Linked DNA regions of Homo sapiens. The protein of the gene in region 3 binds, or shares a complex with, the protein of the main gene of each other region. Each region holds a gene or a part of one and is shown on either strand. Other genes may lie near its edges. A codon is read from its position in the direction of its gene.

The links.
Region 1: the proteins of ITGA2B (region 3) and ITGB3 are in contact, whole or in part, in a cryo-EM structure (PDB 8GCE), measured with the Homo sapiens proteins. Residues at the interface, in NP_000410.2 of Homo sapiens: Gln49 (codon at 2,951), Phe52 (codon at 2,942), Arg72, Trp141, His143, Asn145, Glu152, Ala153, Glu154, Lys155, Pro157, Arg184, Phe191, Tyr197, Glu199, Phe202, Pro217, Tyr221, Phe222, Phe262, Asp263, Tyr265, Tyr268, Thr290, Trp293, Thr294, Gln315, Met316, Ala317, Tyr319; in NP_000203.2 of Homo sapiens: Ser188, Pro189, Tyr190, Tyr192, Ile193, Ser194, Pro195, Pro196, Tyr204, Asp205, Met206 (codon at 5,757), Arg242 (codon at 5,649), Asp243 (codon at 5,646), Pro245 (codon at 5,640), Lys279 (codon at 4,891), His281 (codon at 4,885), Ile282 (codon at 4,882), Ala283 (codon at 4,879), Leu284 (codon at 4,876), Asp285 (codon at 4,873), Arg287 (codon at 4,867), Leu288 (codon at 4,864), Ala289 (codon at 4,861), Gly290 (codon at 4,858), Val292 (codon at 4,852), Gln293 (codon at 4,849), Pro294 (codon at 4,846), Asn295 (codon at 4,843), Asp314 (codon at 2,337), Tyr315 (codon at 2,334).
Region 2: the proteins of ITGA2B (region 3) and FLNA are in contact, whole or in part, in an NMR structure (PDB 7SFT), measured with the Homo sapiens proteins. Residues at the interface, in NP_000410.2 of Homo sapiens: Trp1019, Lys1020, Val1021, Gly1022, Phe1023, Phe1024, Lys1025, Arg1026, Asn1027, Arg1028, Pro1029, Pro1030; in NP_001104026.1 of Homo sapiens: Thr2263 (codon at 5,631), Gly2267 (codon at 5,643), Ala2268 (codon at 5,646), Gly2269 (codon at 5,649), Gly2270 (codon at 5,652), Leu2271 (codon at 5,655), Ile2273 (codon at 5,661), Ala2274 (codon at 5,664), Val2275 (codon at 5,667), Glu2276 (codon at 5,670), Gly2277 (codon at 5,673), Ser2279 (codon at 5,679), Ile2283 (codon at 5,691), Phe2285 (codon at 5,697), Asp2287 (codon at 5,703), Arg2288 (codon at 5,706), Lys2289 (codon at 5,709), Gly2291 (codon at 5,715), Cys2293 (codon at 5,721), Val2295 (codon at 5,727).

Annotation. Positions count from the first base shown.
Region 1 is NC_000017.11:47,284,827-47,292,017, reverse strand, and holds part of ITGB3 (integrin beta-3 precursor), read right to left. Parts: intron 5,759-7,191; coding exon 5,596-5,758; intron 4,949-5,595; coding exon 4,787-4,948; intron 2,338-4,786; coding exon 2,242-2,337; intron 1,834-2,241; coding exon 1,744-1,833; intron 1,065-1,743; coding exon 930-1,064; intron 1-929. UniProt on the Homo sapiens protein: Integrin alpha-V/beta-3 (ITGAV:ITGB3) is a receptor for cytotactin, fibronectin, laminin, matrix metalloproteinase-2, osteopontin, osteomodulin, prothrombin, thrombospondin, vitronectin and von Willebrand factor.
Region 2 is NC_000023.11:154,350,403-154,357,634, reverse strand, and holds part of FLNA (filamin-A), read left to right. Parts: intron 1-11; coding exon 12-201; intron 202-360; coding exon 361-384; intron 385-2,562; coding exon 2,563-2,810; intron 2,811-2,923; coding exon 2,924-3,019; intron 3,020-3,151; coding exon 3,152-3,254; intron 3,255-3,343; coding exon 3,344-3,484; intron 3,485-3,591; coding exon 3,592-3,720; intron 3,721-3,907; coding exon 3,908-4,081; intron 4,082-4,177; coding exon 4,178-4,339; intron 4,340-4,430; coding exon 4,431-4,634; intron 4,635-4,710; coding exon 4,711-4,863; intron 4,864-4,959; coding exon 4,960-5,082; intron 5,083-5,187; coding exon 5,188-5,454; intron 5,455-5,613; coding exon 5,614-5,751; intron 5,752-5,938; coding exon 5,939-6,054; intron 6,055-6,593; coding exon 6,594-6,726; intron 6,727-7,232. UniProt on the Homo sapiens protein: Promotes orthogonal branching of actin filaments and links actin filaments to membrane glycoproteins. Anchors various transmembrane proteins to the actin cytoskeleton and serves as a scaffold for a wide range of cytoplasmic signaling proteins.
Region 3 is NC_000017.11:44,386,379-44,394,612, forward strand, and holds the start of ITGA2B (integrin alpha-IIb preproprotein), read right to left. Parts: upstream 3,272-8,234; 5' UTR 3,249-3,271; coding exon of another isoform or gene 3,096-3,248; coding exon 2,908-3,095; intron 1-2,907. UniProt on the Homo sapiens protein: Integrin alpha-IIb/beta-3 is a receptor for fibronectin, fibrinogen, plasminogen, prothrombin, thrombospondin and vitronectin. It recognizes the sequence R-G-D in a wide array of ligands.

The DNA.
Region 1 (7,191 bases), 2.9 Mb from region 3:
TTTGCAATCTGGAGTTCCTCAGCCTTCCCTATATGAAGGTCTGCAAAGCAAAAACACAAGCACGGGAATAGTATCGTTGTGACATATCTAGCTGGATGCAGAGACATGGTTTACAGTCAATAAATAATAAAAGGCTGTTTTTTCACTCCACATATGAAATAGACCAGCTCAAACTGAACAGAACCTGTGATCATATAAACACCCTGCTTTGGCCTGATTATAATTATCAGCAAGATGCACAAAGCACTATTTTGCACCACACAATCCCACATGGTGGTCAATCATAAGCTCAGGATCTACTTCAGTTCCCACACATTTCATAGCTTATGCAATAAAGCATGTTTCAGGACAATATTTCTAACATGGGATGTTTGCACAAGTGCCTGAGAGACAGATAGGTCAATAGAAAGGATCAGCGTATCCAAAGATCTATTTTCTTCCCCTCCTTCCTCCCCTCCCACCAACCCCTCTCCCCTTAGGCAGAAGCGGAGGAGAAACGACCAATAAGGAAAGTCGTGGAGAGACTGGAGTGTTTTACATTTTAGATTTTACTTTCTTGTGTCGTTTTACAAAAGAAAGGTATTAATTACCTTGGAAAGGCTGGCGACTGGTGAGGGACTGAAGGTAAAGAAATATTTTCCTTTGCAATCAACTGTGCATACACAAACAAAGGTAACCAAATTGTAAGTTTTTCAAATTCCTGAGAGTGAAGTTCACGTAACAGAAATGGCTTACGCAACAGAAGCCTCAGAGGAAAAGATTGGTGGATCCATTACATCTAACTTAGAATGACTTTCAGGAAACGTATTTTTCTTGCCCATATTTTTTTTCTGGTGGAAGGGGGCCATTTTTAGTCACTACAAAAGGAAGAAAGGGGGTTGGGTGCCCACAGATGCTCCAGGACAAAGGCCCTGCCCAGCCCACCTCACCGTGTCTCCAATCTTGAGTCCCATACAAGACTTGAGGCCAGGGATGACCTCATTGTTGAGGCAGGTGGCATTGAAGGATAGAGACAACTCTTCAGGGAGGTCACGCACTTCCAGCTCTACTTTAGAACGGATTTTCTGAGCAGAAAGGGGCACAAGAAGACAAGAAATTGAACTGAAAGGAAACGGGAAATGGCAAGAGCCAGTTCCATCCCAAGCCAAATCTGGCAAGTAGCTCTGGACTCACCCCAGCAGTGCCAGAGGCCAAGGTTTGACCTGGAAGCTGCCGGAGCACCCCTAGGACTCTGTTTCCTGCGCAGGAACCTGCTCCCTCTTTCCATCTCCACTTGCGTCTAGGTGAGTCTGGGTAAAATGTACCAGCTACACCCTCCTGCAGGCCTCACAGATGTTGCAAAAGGGGAGTGCCAATACTGGTCACCTTGGAAAGTGGCATTTTCTACCTAATGTTTCATCAACCTCACCTTCCCCATGTCTCAGCTCTCTCTTTTCCCTGTTATTGGAGCCCAGTTTTCCCTCACTCTGCCCCCACAATTCCAGGGCTCTGCTCCTTCTCCATCTAATCACCATCCCCATCCCCATCTTCTTTCCTTCTTTCTCTCTTCCTTCCTTCCTTCCTTCCTTCTCAGAAGGCTGCATCCCTTCTAGAGCGGGCCATTGCCTGGGCTCTGGGAGCACACGGAGAAGGCAGTAAGACCGTGTGGTAGACTGGCAACTGGGACTCACAAATCTGAGCCCTGCTGTGTAAGCCAAATGAGGTGGACTCTCCGCGGGACTATTCCCAGCACAAGACACTTACCCCATAAGCATCAACAATGAGCTGGAGGACATTGCTGGAATCCATGGACAGAACCCCAACTGTGGTCCCTGGGATGAGCTCACTATAGTTCTAGAAAGGAAAACAAAGATGTCCAGAGCTTACCAAAGGAAGCTGGTGGTCTCCAAAAGCCCTCCCCAAATCCCACTGAGAGTCCTGAGATGAAGATTGGAGGAAGGTACGGGATATTTCAATTGTCACTGCCAGGAATATATCTAGCAGTTTTTCAGCCCTGAGCAAAAGTAGAGGAAACCTCTCACACCCCTCACCACCTCCCCTCCACCACCACAAACACCAACACATACCTAGTAAGTTCAAGATTGCAGGAAAAAGGCCCAGAGTGCAATCTTTAGCTCCTGGGGAGTGGATTAGGGGAGACTCTTTCCTGATTGGGGACTGTATCCAATGCTAGCACAGGCTGGCTACCTGGGGCACCCACCATCACAGGGCCCACTCCAGGAAGCCCGAAGGCACAGTCACCTGATAGAGATTGACTACATTTTCAGTCACTGCAAAGATCAAATTGATGTTTTTCTGGGATAGCTTCTCAGTCATCAGCCCCAAAGAGGGATAATCCTAGGAAAATGAAGGATGTAGAGGTTAATGACGTCTCATGTACATCTCTAGGGTCTAAAGCTTAGAACTTATCTTGCTTGGGCTGTGGCTCAGAGTGTGGTGGTGCTTAAACCATTTCACTTCATGCTGAAAGTGAGACAAGAGCCTGGGCAACATAGCAAGACCCCATCTCTACAAAAAAATTTTTTTTATTTGCCAGATGTGGTGGTAAGTGCCTATAGTCCTAGCTACTGGGGAGGCTGAGGCAGGATCACTTCAGCCCAGGAGTTGGAGGTTACAGTGAGCTATGATTGCACCACTGCACTCCAGCCTGGGCAGCAGAGCAAGACTCTGTCTCTAAAAAAAAAAGGGGGGTGACAGTGAGATAAGAAGGGTAAGTAGCACAGAAGTCTACTTGTGAACTCCAGGGATAGACGAAGAGGTACAGGCCAGTGGTGTCAAAACTAAGCACCTCTTTCTTCCTGCTTGAATTTAATGCACTAATACTATGGAGCTGCTTCCGTGCACAAGGGACTGGGTTAGGCCTCTGTTTTGGAACTACTGACAAATGCCTTGGCCTGGCCCTCGTGATCCTCCACCGTGTGGTCTCAGTCTTTCTTTCCAAATATTGCTCACCTCTCTCCCTCTTCCACTCAGCAGTGATCTGGCCCACTGTCTCCCACCTGGAGTGGCCTTCTTGTTGGTAATCCTCCTCCTTTCTTAGGGCCTAGCTTAGCCCCCACCTTCTTCAGGAGACTTCCTTGGCCATCCCAGCTCATGATGACCTTTCCTCCCTTGGATACGTATAGCCACATTGGCTGTGCCACACCCATTTGGCACTAATCATGCATCTTGTGTTATTGTAAATATATATATCCTTTCTCCTCAAGTAGACCAAAAACTCCCCAAGGATAGAACCATACATAGTCTTGTTACCTCCCTCAGCCCCTGGCCCAGTGCCTTGCATAGATTAGGGGTCAAATGTTGCTGACTCATTGTCTGGTAGTGCTTGACTTGGATATGGCTGACACCAAGGAACTCAAGGACACTGTGCGGGGGCGGTGGTGAATCGTGAACATGTCCATGGGATCCTAGACCTTGCAGGGAGCTCATTAGATCCTCAGCTCAGTCTCCTGCCTTTACACAGGTACACCTTTAAGTCACCTAGATGAGGAAGTTGCTATATTGTCCTTAGGAGACGAAGAGTTCACACCTGCCCCAGATACCTAGAGCATTACAGCACATTTCTCTTATGGCTTATAGTAATTTCTCCTGATTCAATTTAAATATTTTCCTCTTGTTTAACCTTCTATGGCCATATAAAACAACTTATAAGAAGTTTTCTCATGTATAAGCTAAATCATCCTTTAGCCTTCTTTCTTTCAAGCTAAATGACTCTGGCCCTTTAATCTTTCCTCGTAGGACCTGTTCACCATGCCTTTTATGTTCTTTCCCCTCTTTCTCTCTCTCTCTCTCTCTCTCTCTCTCTCTCTCTTTCTAAGAGAAGGGGTCTCCACTAGGAGCAATGGCTCACACCTGTAATCCCAGCACTTTGGGAGGCTTAAGAGGGCAGATTGCTTAAGCCAAGGAGTTTGAGACCAGCCTGGGCAACATAGAAAGACCCTGTTTTCAAAAATTAGCTGGGCATGGTAGTGCATGCCTGTGGTCCCAGCTATTCAGGAGACTGAGGTGGTGAAGCTTGTGAGCCAAGATTGCACTACTGCACTCCAGCTGGGCAACAAAGCAAGACTCTGTATCAAAAAAAAAAAAAAAAAAAAAAAAAAAAAAAAGCAGGGGTGGTTCTTGCTCTGTCACTCAGGCTGGAGTGTAGTGGCAAGATCACAGCTCACTGCAGCCTCAGACTACTGGGCTCAAGAGATCTTTCTGCCTCAGCCCCACAAGTAGCTGGGACCATAGGCACAAACCACAACACTCAACGAATTTTTGCATTTTCTTGTAGAGGCAGGGTCTCACTATATTTCCCAAGCTGGTTTCAAACTCCTGGACTCACGTGATCCTCCCACCTCAGCCTCCCAAAGTGCTGAGATTACAGGCATGAGCCATCATATGCCTGGCCAATCTTTCTCTTTTTTTTCCTCTGTCTTCTTCCAATAACCACAAGTTAGTATGGTATTCCAAGAAAGGGCTAATCAGAGTGGAGAGGAAGACCTGCTTTCCAGCTGGGTTGTAAAAATCCTTTGGGTCCATTCTGGATCCCATGATGCTGCTGCTATGCTGGTGACAGTGAAGGCAGTGATAACACCACAATCAGGGACATCTCTAATGGTTATATAGGTTGTATGCTGGATGACGGTGTCCAGTTGGTAAGGGATAGGGGCAAGCTGGAACCGAGCCCTGCACCCTGCCCAGAAGGAGGGGCTGCCATTTTCATATTCACACAGACTCTGCCTAGATTAGGGCAACCCTCACAATCATGAATAGAAACCATAGGTGGTGCCAGAGATCTCACCATGGTAGTGGAGGCAGAGTAATGATTGTCACTACCAACATGACACTGCCCGTCATTAGGCTGGACAATGCCTGCCAGCCTTCCGTCCAATGCTATATGAGTCTTGGCATCAGTGGTAAACACCAGCAAGTGGGATGCATCATTCCTCCAGCCAATCTTTTCCTGTTAAAAGAAAACAAAAAACAAAGGCAGAGGAGACAAAACAAATTCAGCCATGTCACTGGTAGAGAACAGAGACCCAAGGTGCTCCCTGGCTAAAGGGCTGGACAGCTTATTTTTCTTCAAAACAAGGGTCTCAGTCCCAGTCCTTGGAACCGAAGCTGAAGCTTTCCAGTTCAGGAGTTTCATTCTCTTCAGAAAACAGTCTCATAGCTGATTAGTTCAAGCAGCTGAATGAGATCTTCTTAAACTCCAAACTTAACTCTTCTAATGACAGTCACATTGCTCATCTAGAAACTGACGTGCATCCACAGAGCTGATCTGGGCTAGAAGAAATCTCATCTGAACATCTGCCTACTTTGCTGAGGTTAAGTTAACTCAGCCTTAACTCTGAAGTAACTCTGAAGATGGGAAGATGCTCTCCCCTGGGAACATCTGAGACCACTGAGGTTCAAAGAAATGTCAGCTCAGGCCAGGGAGTGGATCTAAGCCAAGGCTGAATATCAGGAGCAACTTACTACTCATAACTGCAGGAAGCCCTGCTTAGTTCTCATCTCATTTTACACCAGAAATCCCCAGAGTTCAGTCACTTCCTTTCCCATTTTGATCTATGCCAGCCACACCTGGCACTCCAAGTCCTCCAAACTCACATCACAGACTGTAGCCTGCATGATGGCATCAAAGCCACCCTCTGGGGCATCTCGGTTCCGTGACACACTCTGCTTCTTCACTTCCTCATTGAAGCGGGTCACCTGGTCAGTTAGCGTCAGCACGTGTTTGTAGCCAAACATGGGCAAGCAGGTGGTCTTCATACTGGGGAGGGATGGGAGATAATTTAAGCAGACACCTTCATGGAAAAGGCAGCATGGGAATTGGGAGGAAAGAGAGGGGACAAATATAGATAGTGGTATGCCAAGGCCAGTTCCATACAACCACAGTTACCCAGACAGTTCAGACTCCAAAATCCTCAAATTATCTGAAGCTCCCCATCAACATTACCCCCATCCAGCTAACCTAGAAGATAAGAGATTGAGCTGGAAACAAGACTCCCTGAGCTTAGATCCCAGGTGCCCTCTGTACTAGTCATGGGACCTTTGGCAAGCCTCTCAATCCAACCTATGAAAGAGGGGCCAGGATAGCACATATCCCATAAGAGTTGTGAGACTTAAGTAAGTTCATACACACAAAGCACTTAGACCAGAGCGAGGCTCGAGTTGCTATTACTATCACCTTATACTTAACACTTTCCTAAAGTAACAATAAAGCAAAAGTCCATCAGTAAGTTAAGGTCCCTGAACCATCAATAAATTGATAGATCATGCAAGACAGGAGCATTTCTGCCCCCAGTCAAAATAGTGTGTTTAATTAATAGCTGATGTCTTGCCTGGGAACCTTACAACCCAGATAGAAGGTTGAATGCCACATCATATAACTTCAAAACTTTTTCTTTTTTTTTTAGAGACAGTTGTGCTCCATTGTCCAGGTTGGAGTGCAGTGGCACAATCATGGCTCACTGCAGCCTCAACCTCCCAGGCTCAATCAATCCTCCCACCTCAGCCTCCCTGTAGTCCTGGGGACTGCAGGCATGCGCCATCACACATAGCTAATTTTTTTGTAATTTTTGTAGAGATGGGGGTCTCACTATGTTGCCTAGGCTGAACTCAAACTCCTAGGCTCAAGTGATCCTCCCATCTTGGCCTCCCAAAGTGCTGGGATTACAGAAGTGAGTCACCCCACCTGGCCGTAACTTTGAAAACTAAAAAGTAAATTCACACCTTTTCAGGCTCAGCAACCAGCATTGTAAGTTATTCTAATACATGGATTTGCACAGTCTCCACCGATTAAATAAATAAGCCATTCAGTTTTAAGCCAAAGTGTCAAACAGAGGCACAAGTTATCCATTTACAGACTATAAAAGTGTCCAACAAATGTCATTTCCACTCTTTTATATTCCTTAGCACTTCATTTCTTCTGTTTTCACCCTGCAGGATGCACGGCCTTGATGAAGACAATAATGCCAACAATGGAATCGATCCTTCTGTAATCGTAATTTCTCGGTTTCCTTATCCATAAATTTCTTTCTACTTTTGACGTCATTTCCCTCCCATTCTCTCTTGCCTTCTATTTATTTGTTACCAAGACTGAGAAGCTGATGAATTTTCTTTCTAGGTTCTCCAAACAGCCTTAGGCTCCATTGACACAACACTCCAGATCCACAAGCTAGCCCATTTGCCAAACAGGGAGAC
Region 2 (7,232 bases), on a different chromosome or scaffold from region 3:
CTGCCACACAGGATCCCGAAGGCAAGCCGAAGAAGACACACATCCAAGACAACCATGACGGCACGTATACAGTGGCCTACGTGCCAGACGTGACAGGTCGCTACACCATCCTCATCAAGTACGGTGGTGACGAGATCCCCTTCTCCCCGTACCGCGTGCGTGCCGTGCCCACCGGGGACGCCAGCAAGTGCACTGTCACAGGTGAGCCCGCCCGCTGTTGGCCGCTGCGGCGCTCGGCACGGGGCTTGGGTTGTGCCTGTGTGCAAGGGCTCGCTGCTTGGGGCGGCGTGTGGGAGTGGGGGCCGCCCCCTTGAGTGACTCACCTGACCTTTCTCCTTGCTCTCTGCCCTCTCACCTCAGTGTCAATCGGAGGTCACGGGCTAGGTAAGCTGCTTGCTGGGGCCACTCCCAATGCCCCTCCTGCCCAGAGGGGCAGCTTCCTTTCCTCTTGGGGCCGATTCCCAGGACAGTTCCAGCTGCAGCTCTAGGCAGGGACAGAGTTGGGTGGGGTGCAGAAGATGAGGCCGTGGGCTGGAGGGCGAGGGCCCAGGGAGGCTTCCGGAGCTGAGCATGACCGCTCCAGCTCTTCCCCTCTCTGGGCCTTTATTTCCCCATCTGAGAACTCGGGTTGCAGCTGAGAGCTTTGGGGTGAGGTGCATCCTGAGAGGCACCCCACTGGGGACTTTGGGGTCTCGGGATCTTGGCACCCAGGGAGGCACAAGGGCTCCTGCGTGGGCTGAGGGAACAAGGGGTCTCCCCAACTCAATGGGAGCCCCAGCCCTGGCCAGATCCACAGACCCCCATCCCCACCTTCCAGGGGCCTCTGCGTCCCGGGCCGGGGGAGGTGCATGAGCGGGTGGGGCTGGCTGGTAGTGCAGTAGCGCCAGTGTCGACTGCTTGGGCGGCCAGCATGGCGGGGCCCGGCCCAGCCTCAGAGCCCCAAAGTGCATTCTGTGGCCCGTCTCCCTCCTTCCCCCTTCCCCTATCCCCCAGCAGTGACGTTATTCAGACATTCCCCAACAGGCATGGAGGGTCACCTGCCCCAGCCAGGGACACCCAGGGATGCTGATGAGAGGCTACAGGCCTGGCACTTGGGCGAGGTGGCTAAGGAAAGGGTGAGAGGGTGGCTAGAGTTTTGCGGCAGGAGCGAGATGGCTTTATAGAGCAGGCCGTAGGATCCGATGTGTGTGTGACAGGCGTGTGTGCGCAGGGCGGGGGAGGCTGGGGAGTACTGATTGCAGGGCCTTGGGGGCTTTGAGGGTGGGAGCAAGACTCAGTAACCTCAGTTTCCCTGGCTACTGTTTGCAGAATGGAGACAGGGAGCCCGGGGTGGGGAAGGGGGCGCTGAAGTTGCTCTCTGGCAAGCTTGACGGCCACGGGGCTTCAGTGAGAGCCAAATTAGGAGGCATACTTTGAGGATGGAGTGGCTGAGACCTGCGGTTGGCTGGGAGCCGGGCAGGGAAAGTGGGGGCAGTCGGGTACCTGTGAGGTTGGGGCCCAAGCCACTAACTAGATGGCATGGGGTGCACATGAGTGAAGCCTCCCAGGGCAGCGTGGGCAGCCGGCAGCCAGGTCTGGAGCCTGGGAGAGCTGCCTGGCCGCGGCAGGCCAGCATGGAGCCTAGTGCAGCAGGAGCCCTCGGCCGATAGTGGGACTTGGTGGCAGGGCCCCTCGAGCTTGGCCTTCAAGTAGGTTTCGTGCTCCTGGCTGCTTCCCTGGCAGGAGGCCAGGCTGCAGGGGGCACTCTCACTGCCAGGCCTCACAGCCCACAGCCCCCCAAGCCTCCACGGCGGAGACCCAGATCATAACGTCACTGTCTCTCCCCTTTCCTCGGGCACTCTGGGGCCCTGGAGCCTGCTCAGCTGCTCTGCCCTCGCAACCCAGCAGTGGTGGCTGTAGCTTGGGCCTCCTGTTCCCTGTCTCCCTGGGTGCTATCCCCGCTCTGCCAAGCCTGCTGCGCTGCGCTACTCGGGTGCTAACCCCGCTGCCTCCCGCTTCCCCGCTCCCACTCCTGTCTGCACCGGGCTGCTTTTCACCGCGAGCCTTCTCAGTTGTCAGGAAACTCCGGTTTCACCATCAGGCCTGGGGGGTGGGGAGGCAAGTGTCACATCCCCCCACGCTGCAGCAGGACTCCGCCTCACCGCGTCCACACACAGCAATGGGGGCCGGGGCCAGGCCAGAAGGGCGCAGGCAGCCGTGTGCCCAGCCAGATGCTGGCGTTCAGCAGTGTGGGCCATGGTGCTGGACGAGGCTGAGTAGGCAAGGGAGTGGCTGTCAACACTTAGGCTGGAGTGGGCCCTTCCTTTTCCTCCCAGGCACCTGGGTGCTACTGTCGGGCCTCTCCCACATGGGCACTTGAGGTGGTCAGGAGAAACCTTCCTGCCTTCTGAGAAACCACTCGCCATCCCAGCTTGGAGGGGCAGGGCGGGGCAGGAGGCCTGGCGGCCTGGCTGTGCTTGGTGGTGGCAATGAGAGGCCTGTGTGGGCGGCAGGCGGACGGGAACAACCTGAACCCGAGCTCACACGCTGGCCCCCCTTTGGGGACCCACCCTGCCCCACCAGGTGCTGGCATCGGCCCCACCATTCAGATTGGGGAGGAGACGGTGATCACTGTGGACACTAAGGCGGCAGGCAAAGGCAAAGTGACGTGCACCGTGTGCACGCCTGATGGCTCAGAGGTGGATGTGGACGTGGTGGAGAATGAGGACGGCACTTTCGACATCTTCTACACGGCCCCCCAGCCGGGCAAATACGTCATCTGTGTGCGCTTTGGTGGCGAGCACGTGCCCAACAGCCCCTTCCAAGTGACGGTGAGGAGGGGTGGGGGGTAGGTCAGCAGGGGTGTCTGGCAGGTCCCGGCCTGTTCCCCTGGGGCCCCTCTGTGACAACAGACTCTCCAGCAGCTCTCTGCTTTGCCCTGCAGGCTCTGGCTGGGGACCAGCCCTCGGTGCAGCCCCCTCTACGGTCTCAGCAGCTGGCCCCACAGTACACCTACGCCCAGGGCGGCCAGCAGACTTGGGTACGGCCTGGCCAGCTAGGGACACTGGGGCTAGCCAGCTGGGTGTTCTGTGAGCCCCTAGTTTACCATGTGTGAGGAGGGACCCCAGATCCTCCCACTGTCCCTCACCCATGCCCTGTGTCTCCACTGCAGGCCCCGGAGAGGCCCCTGGTGGGTGTCAATGGGCTGGATGTGACCAGCCTGAGGCCCTTTGACCTTGTCATCCCCTTCACCATCAAGAAGGGCGAGATCACAGGTGAGTGGGGACTTGGGAAGGAGCTCGGGAGCCAAGGAGGCCAGACTGTGCCAATGAGCTGCCCTGACCTCAGCCCCACTGCCCCACAGGGGAGGTTCGGATGCCCTCAGGCAAGGTGGCGCAGCCCACCATCACTGACAACAAAGACGGCACCGTGACCGTGCGGTATGCACCCAGCGAGGCTGGCCTGCACGAGATGGACATCCGCTATGACAACATGCACATCCCAGGTGGGCCTGCCCTGCCTCTGCCCACTCCACCGCCACCACCTCACAGAGAGATGGGGCTGGGGGACACACGAGGCTGCCATTCCACAAGGCCCTTCTTCCTGCCTCAGGAAGCCCCTTGCAGTTCTATGTGGATTACGTCAACTGTGGCCATGTCACTGCCTATGGGCCTGGCCTCACCCATGGAGTAGTGAACAAGCCTGCCACCTTCACCGTCAACACCAAGGATGCAGGAGAGGGTGAGCAATAGCTCTGGTCTTGACCTGCTCTGTGCCCGGGATGCCCTCACCGGGGTAAGGGCTGGACTCAGGAGATACTCCTGAATGGGGCTCCCTGCCCTGCTGCCCTGGCCATCGGAGCTCCTCAGTGCAGGCCAACTGGAGTGTCCCCAGCATAGTTCCCATGCTCACCCACGGCTCTCTCCAGGGGGCCTGTCTCTGGCCATTGAGGGCCCGTCCAAAGCAGAAATCAGCTGCACTGACAACCAGGATGGGACATGCAGCGTGTCCTACCTGCCTGTGCTGCCGGGGGACTACAGCATTCTAGTCAAGTACAATGAACAGCACGTCCCAGGCAGCCCCTTCACTGCTCGGGTCACAGGTGGGTGGCACTGGGAGCAGTGACAGAAACGGGTGGCAGGGTGGGCATGGTCTCCCATGGCTGGACGCACACTGATGGCTGGCCTGTCCCCACCAGGTGACGACTCCATGCGTATGTCCCACCTAAAGGTCGGCTCTGCTGCCGACATCCCCATCAACATCTCAGAGACGGATCTCAGCCTGCTGACGGCCACTGTGGTCCCGCCCTCGGGCCGGGAGGAGCCCTGTTTGCTGAAGCGGCTGCGTAATGGCCACGTGGGTAAGCGGCTGAAGGGTCCAGGGGGTTCAGAAAGGAGGCAGCCTGTGGGGAGCCATGCCCTCCCTGACTGACAGCCATGCCCTGTGTCCAGGGATTTCATTCGTGCCCAAGGAGACGGGGGAGCACCTGGTGCATGTGAAGAAAAATGGCCAGCACGTGGCCAGCAGCCCCATCCCGGTGGTGATCAGCCAGTCGGAAATTGGGGATGCCAGTCGTGTTCGGGTCTCTGGTCAGGGCCTTCACGAAGGCCACACCTTTGAGCCTGCAGAGTTTATCATTGATACCCGCGATGCAGGTAGGCAGTGGCTGCCCACCAGCTGGGGCGGGAGCACTGTGCATAGCACCGAGGCTCAGGGGTATCCATCCCCTAGGCTATGGTGGGCTCAGCCTGTCCATTGAGGGCCCCAGCAAGGTGGACATCAACACAGAGGACCTGGAGGACGGGACGTGCAGGGTCACCTACTGCCCCACAGAGCCAGGCAACTACATCATCAACATCAAGTTTGCCGACCAGCACGTGCCTGGTGAGTGCAGCAGTGCCTCGGCAGCCCCCCTCACTACACCAGGGCCCACAGGCAGTATGTGACTGGAGGGGCGTGGGCCGTGCTTTCTTCCTGCAGGCAGCCCCTTCTCTGTGAAGGTGACAGGCGAGGGCCGGGTGAAAGAGAGCATCACCCGCAGGCGTCGGGCTCCTTCAGTGGCCAACGTTGGTAGTCATTGTGACCTCAGCCTGAAAATCCCTGGTAGGGGCTGTGGGAAGCCTGGGGAGGGGTCCTGGGGCTCAAGCAGCCCCAAGAGGAGGGGTGGAGCCCAGGGCTGCTGCTCACTAGCCCATCCCCACCCTGCAGAAATTAGCATCCAGGATATGACAGCCCAGGTGACCAGCCCATCGGGCAAGACCCATGAGGCCGAGATCGTGGAAGGGGAGAACCACACCTACTGCATCCGCTTTGTTCCCGCTGAGATGGGCACACACACAGTCAGCGTGAAGTACAAGGGCCAGCACGTGCCTGGGAGCCCCTTCCAGTTCACCGTGGGGCCCCTAGGGGAAGGGGGAGCCCACAAGGTCCGAGCTGGGGGCCCTGGCCTGGAGAGAGCTGAAGCTGGAGTGCCAGGTAGGCCTGCTCACACCCCGAGTGCTCGCTCTCCTGCGTTGGCCAGGGTGGGGTTGGGGGTGGAGGAAAGAGCCGGCAGGCATGTCTACCTTGGCTATGCCTGGAGGGGGCCGAGGCTGGTGAAGCAGCCTTCAGTGAGGACAAACTGTTCTCCCACAGCCGAATTCAGTATCTGGACCCGGGAAGCTGGTGCTGGAGGCCTGGCCATTGCTGTCGAGGGCCCCAGCAAGGCTGAGATCTCTTTTGAGGACCGCAAGGACGGCTCCTGTGGTGTGGCTTATGTGGTCCAGGAGCCAGGTACTGGGAACCCGGCTGGGGTTGGAGGAGGTGGGGCCTGAGTGTGGGTATTGGACCCAGGGCTGGCACAGATAGCCCTGCCTGGCACTCACTCTTCACTTTGAGGTCACAGGGCCACCCAGGCTGTTCGTGGGAGGTGGGAGGCCCAAAGGCTGATGAGCCGGTCTTACACTCTTTCCCTGCCCAGGTGACTACGAAGTCTCAGTCAAGTTCAACGAGGAACACATTCCCGACAGCCCCTTCGTGGTGCCTGTGGCTTCTCCGTCTGGCGACGCCCGCCGCCTCACTGTTTCTAGCCTTCAGGTGAGGCACCGAGAGAAACCGCCCACCTGGGGCTCCTGGGCCCGGACAGACCAGAGCCACCGCAGAGACCAGGCCTTGGCCCTGTGTTCAGTGACCCCCCTGGCCCAGCTCTGGGTTCCAGGCCTCTGCTCTGGCCGGGTGCAGCCCACGCTTGGGGTCGGCAGGAAATATCCTGCCCACCACGTGGAGTTTTTCTCGTGTCTCAGGTCTAAAGGCTTTGAACAGAAGCCTGTGCCCCTTGAGCACCAGGGCTGCGGTTTAAAGAGGGACAGCCTGCCAAGGCTGGGTGCTGCCCACAGGGTGGGGCAGCCCTCCCTTCCTGCCACCTGGGTGTGTGCGACGGCAGAGTGTGGGGGCAGGGGCGGGGATGTGCGCCTGTGGCTTGCTGCCCCTTGCAAATCAGTGGCTCTCCCTCTTTAAACCAAGTTGGACGCCAGATGGGTAAGTGCGACCCGCGGGCCTCTTGCTCCTGGGGCCTTTCCGTCCTCCCTTGCCCTGGCTCAAGCACCCCCATCTAACCATGTCTGCTGTGCTTCCAGGAGTCAGGGCTAAAGGTCAACCAGCCAGCCTCTTTTGCAGTCAGCCTGAACGGGGCCAAGGGGGCGATCGATGCCAAGGTGCACAGCCCCTCAGGAGCCCTGGAGGAGTGCTATGTCACAGAAATTGACCAAGGTGAGGCCCTGTCCCTGCCCGGCCGCCCTGCCCTGCTGGCTGGAAGCAGGCTGAGAGTACAAAAGGAAGGTACCGCTTCTGTAAGCAGCCAAGACGGGGCCCCAACTCCTGGGCCCCCTAAGCCAGGCAACCCTTTCCCAATTGGTGACCCAAGCCGCTGGGGATGTGGCTCGCCACCCACAGCTATTAGGAAGGCCTTCTACCCTGCAGTACCATGCCATCTCCACAGGGAAAGACTCAAAGTCCAGCCTCAGTGCTGCCCGGCCCTTCAGCCACGGCCATGGTACTTGTGCACAGGCCTGGGGCAGCCTTGTGGGTAGGAGGAGCCCAGTGGGCTTCATTTCACGGCCTAGTCCTGCCCTTCCCAGCTGCATGACCTGAAGCAAGTTCCTGCCCGTCTCTGAGCCTGTTAACATGCAGGGGATATGGTGTTCACGGTAACCTTTCTTAGGAGGCAGCAAGGCCTGGGTTTGGCTTGTAAAAGATTTCCGTCCCAATGCACCCTG
Region 3 (8,234 bases):
TTTGGTTTGATTTGAACACCAGGGGTTTGAGATCTTTGCTGAAAAAGACCTAAACTCTGTACAACACCTCCATCCTTCCACCCGCAACAAGAACCAGCGGTTCACATGCTCCCTGGAATGCCTGCCTAGACTGTTACCAGATCCCCTCTTGAGAGCTGGTTTTAATGAGGGAAGGTAGCGGGTACCTCTAAAGTGGGGCTGGAGTGTGTGTGCTGATAGGAGGACCCTAGCAGATCTAGGTTTAAATCACAATTCTGCCATATGTGAAATAGGAATACCAATTTCATAACCAATGACTGGTTTTCACAACCAGTCAATGCTGTCAGGAGTAAATGTAATAAATACGAGTAACGGTTAGCATGGTCCCAGCCAAATACATAACAAACGCTCTTGAAACAATGCTATAATTTTAAAAAATAATTTTGTTGTTTTGAGACAGGGTCTCATTCTGTTGCCCAGCTGGAGTGCAGCAGCATGATCACAGCTCACTGTAGCCTTGATCTCCAGGGCTCAAGCAATCCTCTCCCCTCAGCCACCCTAGTAGCTGGGACTGCGGGTGTGCAACACCATGCCTGGCTAATTAAAAAAAATTTTTTTATAGGCTGGGCATGGTGGCTCACACCTGTAATCCCAGCACTTTGGGAGGCCAAGGGATTACAGGCGTGAGCCTCTGTGTCTGGCCCATAATATTTTTTTAGCCTGCAGGATGTTTAAGTAGTGCCAATGGGATCACTACTTATAGGAGGGGAAATCAGCAGGAGTGGGCACAGGAAGGAGTTGAGCTGATTCAGGCCCAATGACAGCATTCGCCAACACCCCACGAGCTTTGGAACTAGAATGACCCTTCAAAATTGTCAGAGTTGGCCGGGTGTGGTGGCTCACGCCTGTAATCCCAGTACTTTGGGAGGCCGAGGCAGGCTGATCACCTGAGGTCAGGAGTTTGAGACCAGCCTGGCCAACATAGTGAAACCCTGTCTCTACTAAAAATACAAAAATTAGCCGGGCATGGTGGCATGCACCTGTAATCCCAGCTACTCGGGAGGCTGAGACAGGAGAATCGTTTGAACCCAGGAGGCAGAGGTTGCAGTGAGCCGAGATCACCCCATTGCACTCCAGCCTGGGCAACGAGAGCGAAACTCCATCTCAAAAAAAAAGAAGAAAAAAAGTCTGGGCATGGTGGCTGAAGCCTGTAATCCCAGCACTTTGGGAGGCCAAGGCGGGTGGATCACCTGAAGTTGGGAGTTCGAGACCACCCTGACCAACATGGAGAAACCTCGTCTCTACTAAAAATACAAAATTAGCCGGGTGTGGTGGCACATGCCTGTAATCCCAGCTACGCGGGAGGCTGTGGCAGGAGAATCGCTTGAACCCGGGAGGCAGAAGTTGCGGTGAGCCAGTGATTGTGCCATTGCACTCCAGCCTGGGCAACAAGAGCGAAACCCCATCTCAAAAAAAAAAAAAAAAAAAAAAAAAAAAGAAGAAGAAGAAAAAAAGAATTGTCAGAGTTGATGAAAGAGGGCTGGACCCTTATCAAATGCCTCCCCCACACCTGCCTCCACTCTCCCCACTCACCCACTTCTCATTGATCAGACACTGGATGTGGGCCATCTTGGGAGGGGACTTGGAGTGAACTGGCTCTCTTCAGCAGAGGAAATCCCCTAAGTGGCTGACACTTGAAGGCTATCTGCCATTGCCACCCATTGCCACTCCCTGAAGCTGGTGGGCACAGTGTCTCTCACAATAGTAGCTCAGGGTACACGCTATGAAGAGGAGGAGCCAAGACTCTAATCTTGGCACTCTTGATTCTGAAGCCTGATCAATACTAATCATTAATGACCTATTGCTTCTTTTCAAATATTTATAATGTTGATGGAGATGAGGGAAATGGAACAGAAATGCAAGGTGCGGGAGGGTAGACAACTTTAGTTCTGCAAATCAATTTAGGACATGTGCTCCTCTCCACATTTCCTTTCTTTTTTTTTTTTTTTTTTTTTTGAGACAGAGTTTCGCTCTCGTTGCCCAGGCTGGAGTGCAATGGCATGATCTCGGCTCACCACAACCTCTGCCTCTCAGGTTCAAACGATTCTCCTGCCTCAGCCTCCCGAGTAGCTGGGATTACAAGCATGCGGCACCACGCCCGGCTAATTTTTTTTTTTTTGAGACGGAGTGTCACTCTGTCACCCAGGCTGGAGTGCAGTGGCATGATCTCAGCTCACTGCAACCTCCACCTCCCGGGTTCAAGTGATTCTCCTACCTCAGCCTCCCGAGTAGCTGGGACTACAGGAGTGTGCCACCACGCTCAGCTAATTTTTGTATTTTTAATAGAGACAGGGTTTCACCATATTGGCCAGGCTGGTCTTGAACTCCTGACCTCATGATCTGCCCACCTCTGCCTCCCAAAGTGCTGGGATTGCAGGTGTGAGCCACTGTGCCTGGTCTCTTTTTTTTTTTTTTTTTTGTATTTTTAGTAGAGACGGGGTTTCTCCATGTTGGTCAGGCTGGTCTCGAATTCTCGACCTCAGGTGATCTGCCCGCCTCGGCCTCCCAAAGTGCTGGGATTACAGGCATGAGCCACCGCGCCCGGCCTCCTCTCTGCATTTCAAGGTGTTGAGGGTGGAGTGGTTCATACAACTGACCCTTGGGGAAAAAATAAAGCATCAACTCTTGTCTTCCCTTTGTTCTTGCTGTAGTTTTCAGTGCCCATCAGCCCACATGTGCCCTGCCCTTATACCTTCACCTGAGCCAGTCCCCTGGACCCCAACATTCTTGACAAGAAATCAACCTGAATAGGCCCCACAAGTCACCTTGCTCAACTGCTATCGCAAATGGGAAACTCGAAGCCCCCAGAAGCAGTGATGGGGAGGGGTCCTGCTCTCTCCCAATACCCCAACTTCCCTTACGGCTCACCTCCCATGGCTGTCCTTGTGGAAGTCCAGTGAAAATCCAAACTGGCTGCCATTGGGGCCTGCATAGAAGGTGAGCTGCACTGGGTCCAGGTTCAAGGCCCAGGCTGGAGGGGCAGCACAAGGTCCCAAGAGCAGCAGCACCCACTCCAGAAGCCAGAGGGCTTGCAGTGGACACAAAGCTCTGGCCATCTTCCTTCTTCCACAACCTCCCAGGCAGGAATGGGCCAGCTCCTCCTCCTTCCCTTCAGATTCCTCCACAGGAAGTCTTTTCTTATCAAACTGGAACCCCAAGTAACTTGCTGAGCAACGGGCAGAGCAAAGGGCTATAGCCCCTGGACTCATGGTGGCTAGAATTGCCAGGAAGTGGGTGAGGCCACCCAGAGGGTGGATGCTCATGGCTGAAAGCCATGACTCCTCCCCTTTCCTGAGAATAGTTTATTACCATGTCCTATTGGTTCTGCCTATCAATGATGTCTCTTGAATCTTTACCCCATCTCTACTACCACCGTGCTAGTCCAAGCCACCATCACTTTCTGCTTGGGATAGCGTGATTGTGAACTGGTCCATACTTGTCTACTCTAGCCTACAGTTCTAATCTCCTCCCTTCCCCCATCTGGCTGTACAGCTGTGGTGCTTTGTGACTTGGCCACAGGTCGGGGAAGGAGAAGGAAGCTGCTGCCCCCGATAAAACCTGAGGCTTCTGTATCTTTTTGGATATGGCATTTACCCACTTCCTCCTTCTAGGACCTTGGGCGGCCTCAACCAGCCATATTGGTGCAGCAGCTTCCTCACTCCTCCTCCGTCTTGAGCCAAGCTTTAGTGTGGCCACAGCAGTGCAGTCAGTGCTGGGGACAGGGTGGTGAATGGACCTTGGTCTAGGTGGCAAGGAGATTGGGGATAAAGTGGAGTTATTCCAGGGAATTTTGACTCACAGTTTCTGAGATTATGCATTAGCTGTTCAGTTGAAGGTAGGCCCTCAATCCTTTTTGGGTGATGGAGCTCTTTAACCATTAAGACTTGATTCTGGTTGGGGGCTTTGCCTAGGGGAGCCTTCCCTGACTCCTCAGGCTGGCCGCGTGGGCTAACACACGTAGGCACAGCATTGAGCACACTGTTTACTCTTGGTCCGTTCACAGGATTGTGTAAATGAGTCCCTTGGGAGCAAGGCTCCTTGCTACAGCCCTAGAGACTACCCAAGAGTCCAATGTGTAGTACGTGTATTGCTGAAAGACTGGATGGAAACACACACTAAGGATGGAAGATGCAAACATAGGGTGACAAAGTGAAGGGATGAGTTTTGAGCAGAAAGGCAAAGTCATTTTCTCTCGGTAAGCGGAAGAGGAGGAGTGCCAAGTCTTACTGGCACTCATGCCTTCCCAAAAAAGCAGGTTCTCAGGAAGATTTAAGAGGTCCGCTAGGGGTAACCATAGCCACATTTTCCTTTTGATTTCTATTTTCTGATCAAACTTAACCATTGCCGTATCCTGCTCAACCACCCTGTACCATTTTGAAGTCCCCTCGTAATTTACTACCTCAGCCTAGAGTTAAGAATCTTATCCTTTATAGGACAGGAAGCTAAAAGCCTGAACTTTGGTCTGGGCCTTCTTCATTGCTGAGTTCCCAGTGTCAAGTACATGGGAGGCGTGTAATTAATGTATTTGCTTGAACGAATACTTAACCCAGTCCTCTACTTACCTTCTATCCTCCCACTGTCCTCAGGTGAGTGATTGCTGTATTACTGGTGTATTCTGTGAGGCCAAATATGAACTTACATTTCACTCAAGTTTTCAATAAGTATTTACTCTGTTCAAGGCACTGTGTTGATAAAGGATACAAAGATAACCATTAGGCCAGGTATAGTGGCTCATGCCTGTAATCCCAGCACTTTGGGAGGCTGAGGCAGGAGGATGGCTTGAGCTCAGGCATTTAAGACCAGCCTAGGCAATACAGTGAGACCTCGTCTCTATTTTAAAATTATAAAAAATAAAATATTTTAAAAACTCCAAAGATAGCCATCAAGGAGACTTAACAAACAGCCCAGAAAGAGTTAAGACATGAACACACATAACTGCAGCAGAGAGACAGTCAAGCATGCCTTGAAAAATACACAGATTATCAAAGTCGTATATCATTGTTACTCATAACAACCCTAGGAAATAAGTACTATTATGCCCATTTTATAAACACAAAACTGTGGCACAAGAGTTTTAGGTAAATTGCCCATGTTTACGCAGCCAACAGATGGCAAAACTAAGATTCAAACATGGGTTGCACTTGAACTCATGTTCAAGTTGCCTTTTGTCAGAGAATGAAAGGGTTTTTAGGCATAGAGAATACATGAGAGCAGCAAAGGAACACAGAGGTAGGGAAGGACAAGTAGTTGACTCAGCATAGCAGAATGCTTAAAGGGTTGGACTGAGGCGCAAGGGGGTAAAGCTTGGGGATTCAAATTACTGGAGGTCCTTGAATGCCATATTAAGGAATCTGAACTTTAATCCATGGGGGATGGAAAATCATAAAGATTTTAGCCGGGCATGGTGGCTCATGCCTGTAATCCCAGCACTTTGGGAGGCCCAGGCGAGTGGACCACAAGGTCAGGAGTTTGAGACCAGCCTGGCCAACCTAGTGAAACCCCGTCTCTACTAAAAATACAAAAATTAGCTGGGCGTGGTGGTGTGTGTCTGTAATCCCAGCTACTTGGGAGGCTGAGGCAAAAGAATTGCTTGAACCTGTGAGGCGGAGGTGGCAGTGAGCTAAGATCATGCCACTGCACTCCAGCCTGGGCGACAGAGTGAGACTCCATCAAAAAAGAAAAAAAGAAAGAAAGAAAAGAAAAATAAAATTATAAAGATTTTTTACACCAGGTTTGGTGGCTCATGCCTGTAACCCTAGCACTTTGGGAGGCCAAGATGAGGATTGCTTGAAGCCAGGTGTTTGGGACCAGCCTGGGCAACATAGTGAGACCCTGTCTCTACAAAAAAATTAAAATTAGCCAGGCACGGTAGTGCACACCTGTAGTTCCAGCTACTGAGGAGGCCGAGGCAGGAGAATCACTTGAGCCCACGAGTTTTAGGTTACAGTGCACTACGATTTTGCCACTCCACTCCAGCCTGGGCAAGAGTAAGACTATGCCTAAAAAACAATTTTTTTTTTTTTTTTTTTTTTTTTTGCTGGGCATGGTGGCTCACACCTGTAATCTCCCAACACTTTGGGAGGCCAAGGTGGGCGGATCGCTTGAGGCCAGGAGTTTGAGATCAGCCTGGCCAACATGGCAAAACCCTGTCTCTACTAAAAATACAAAAATTAGCCGGGTGTGGTGGTGCACACCTATAATCTCAGCTGCTTGGGAGGCTGAGGAAGAATTGCTTGAACCTGGGAGACGGAGGTTGCGGTCAGCCGAGATCGTGCCATCACACTCCAGCCTGGGCAACAAGAGCAAAATTCCATCTCAAAAAACCCAAAAAACCAAAAACCAAAAAACACATTTTTGAATTTTTTTTGGCTCAATTCTGATGCACAATCCTCAGTTAATGATATTTTACTTGGCTCATATTCTTTTTATTTTTGAGACAGGATCTTGCTCTGTCACCCAGGCTGTAGTACAGTGACCTGAACATGGCTCACTACAGACTTGACCCCTGGGCTCAAGCAGTCCTCCCACATCAGCTTCATGAATAGCTGGGACCACAGGCTTGTGCCACCATGCCCAGCTAATTTTTAAATTGTTTTGTAGAGATGGGGTCTTGCTATGTTACCCAGGTTGGCCTCGAATTTCTGAGCTCAAGAGATCCTCCTGCCTTGGCCTCCCAAAGTACTGGGATTATAGGCATGAGACACTGTGCCTGGCCACTTTGCTCATATTCTTGAACATATAATCAAAATGTTTACTATGTATTCAGTGTGAGATACGTTGGGGGCTGCGGTGGGGGGATATAAGAATCACTCCCTGTTCTCTCAGAGATTACAATTTTACTGGGAAGCAATGAATACAAAATGAGCTGCATTCAGATTCTGAAAAGCCAGTAAGCTTACACAGAACAGGAAATTAGGTTCTAGTCAGGAAGGCCACCCAGGAAAATGCTGCAAAAATTGAGATATGAGTTGGTAGAAGTGAGTGAAGCTGTCTTTGGCAAATAAGAATGGAAATGGCTGACGAGGCCTGAATTAGTCATCAAGGGTTTGAAGAGGGAGTACTTTCATGTTTCAGGCCAAGGTGGCTGAGGCCTTATCAGAACAAGGCAATTAACTGCACGTATCTTCACATAACACTCTATACAGTCCAGTCTGCCTCTTTGACTTGTCACCTCCCCTGCTCTCAGAAAATCACTTTTTTTTTGTTTTTGAGATGGCGTCTCACTCTGTCACCCAGGCTGGAATGCAGTGGCATGATCTTGGCTCACTGGAACCTCTGCCTCCCGGGTTCAAGTGATTCTCCTGTCTCAGCCTCTTGAATAGCTGGGATTATAGGCGCACGCCATCATGCCTGGCTAATTTTTGTATTTTTAGTAAAGACGGGGCTTCACCATGTTAGTCAGGCTGGTCTCGATCTCTCCTGACCTCGTGATTCGCCTACCTCGGCCTCAGTGCTGGGATTACAGGCTTGAGCCACCGTGCCCCGCCCATTTTTTTTTTTTTTTTTTTTTTTTTGAGACGGAGTCTCACTCTATCACTCAGGCTGGAGTGCAGTGGCATGATCTTGGCTCACTGCAACCTCCACTTCCCACGTTCAAGCGATTCTCCTACCTCAGCCTCTTGAGTAGCTGCAATTACAGGCATGCACCACCATGCCTGGCCAATTTTTTTTTTTTTTTTAAATTTTTAGTAGAGATGGGGTTTCACCATGTTGGCCAGGCTGATCTCAAACTCCTGACCTCAAGTGATCCACCTGCCTTGGCCTTCCAAAGTGCTGGGATTAGACATGAGCCACCACACCTGGCCTCACTTTTCATTTTCTAACGTGTGTGTGTGTGTGTGTGTGTGAGACAGACAGGGTCTCACGCTGTTGCCCAGGCTAGAGTGCAGTGGTGTGATCTTGGCTCACGGCAACCTCCCGGTTCAAGCGATTCTCCTGCCTCAGCCTCTCGAGTAACTGGGATTACAGGCGTGTGCCACTACGCCCGGCTAATTTTTGTAGGTCTAATGTCATTTCTTTCTGGGTAAGGATCTTTGCTATTTTAGGAATATAGGCAGATCTGAGTACTCAACCCCAGGTTCAAGTTGAACAGCTCCTCTTTAATCAAAGGGAGAACACAGATGTATCAAACAGAGTAGGAAAGAAATGTATCAAAAGACAGTAGGAAAGAAAGCCTTTCCTTCTTGAAAGGCTGA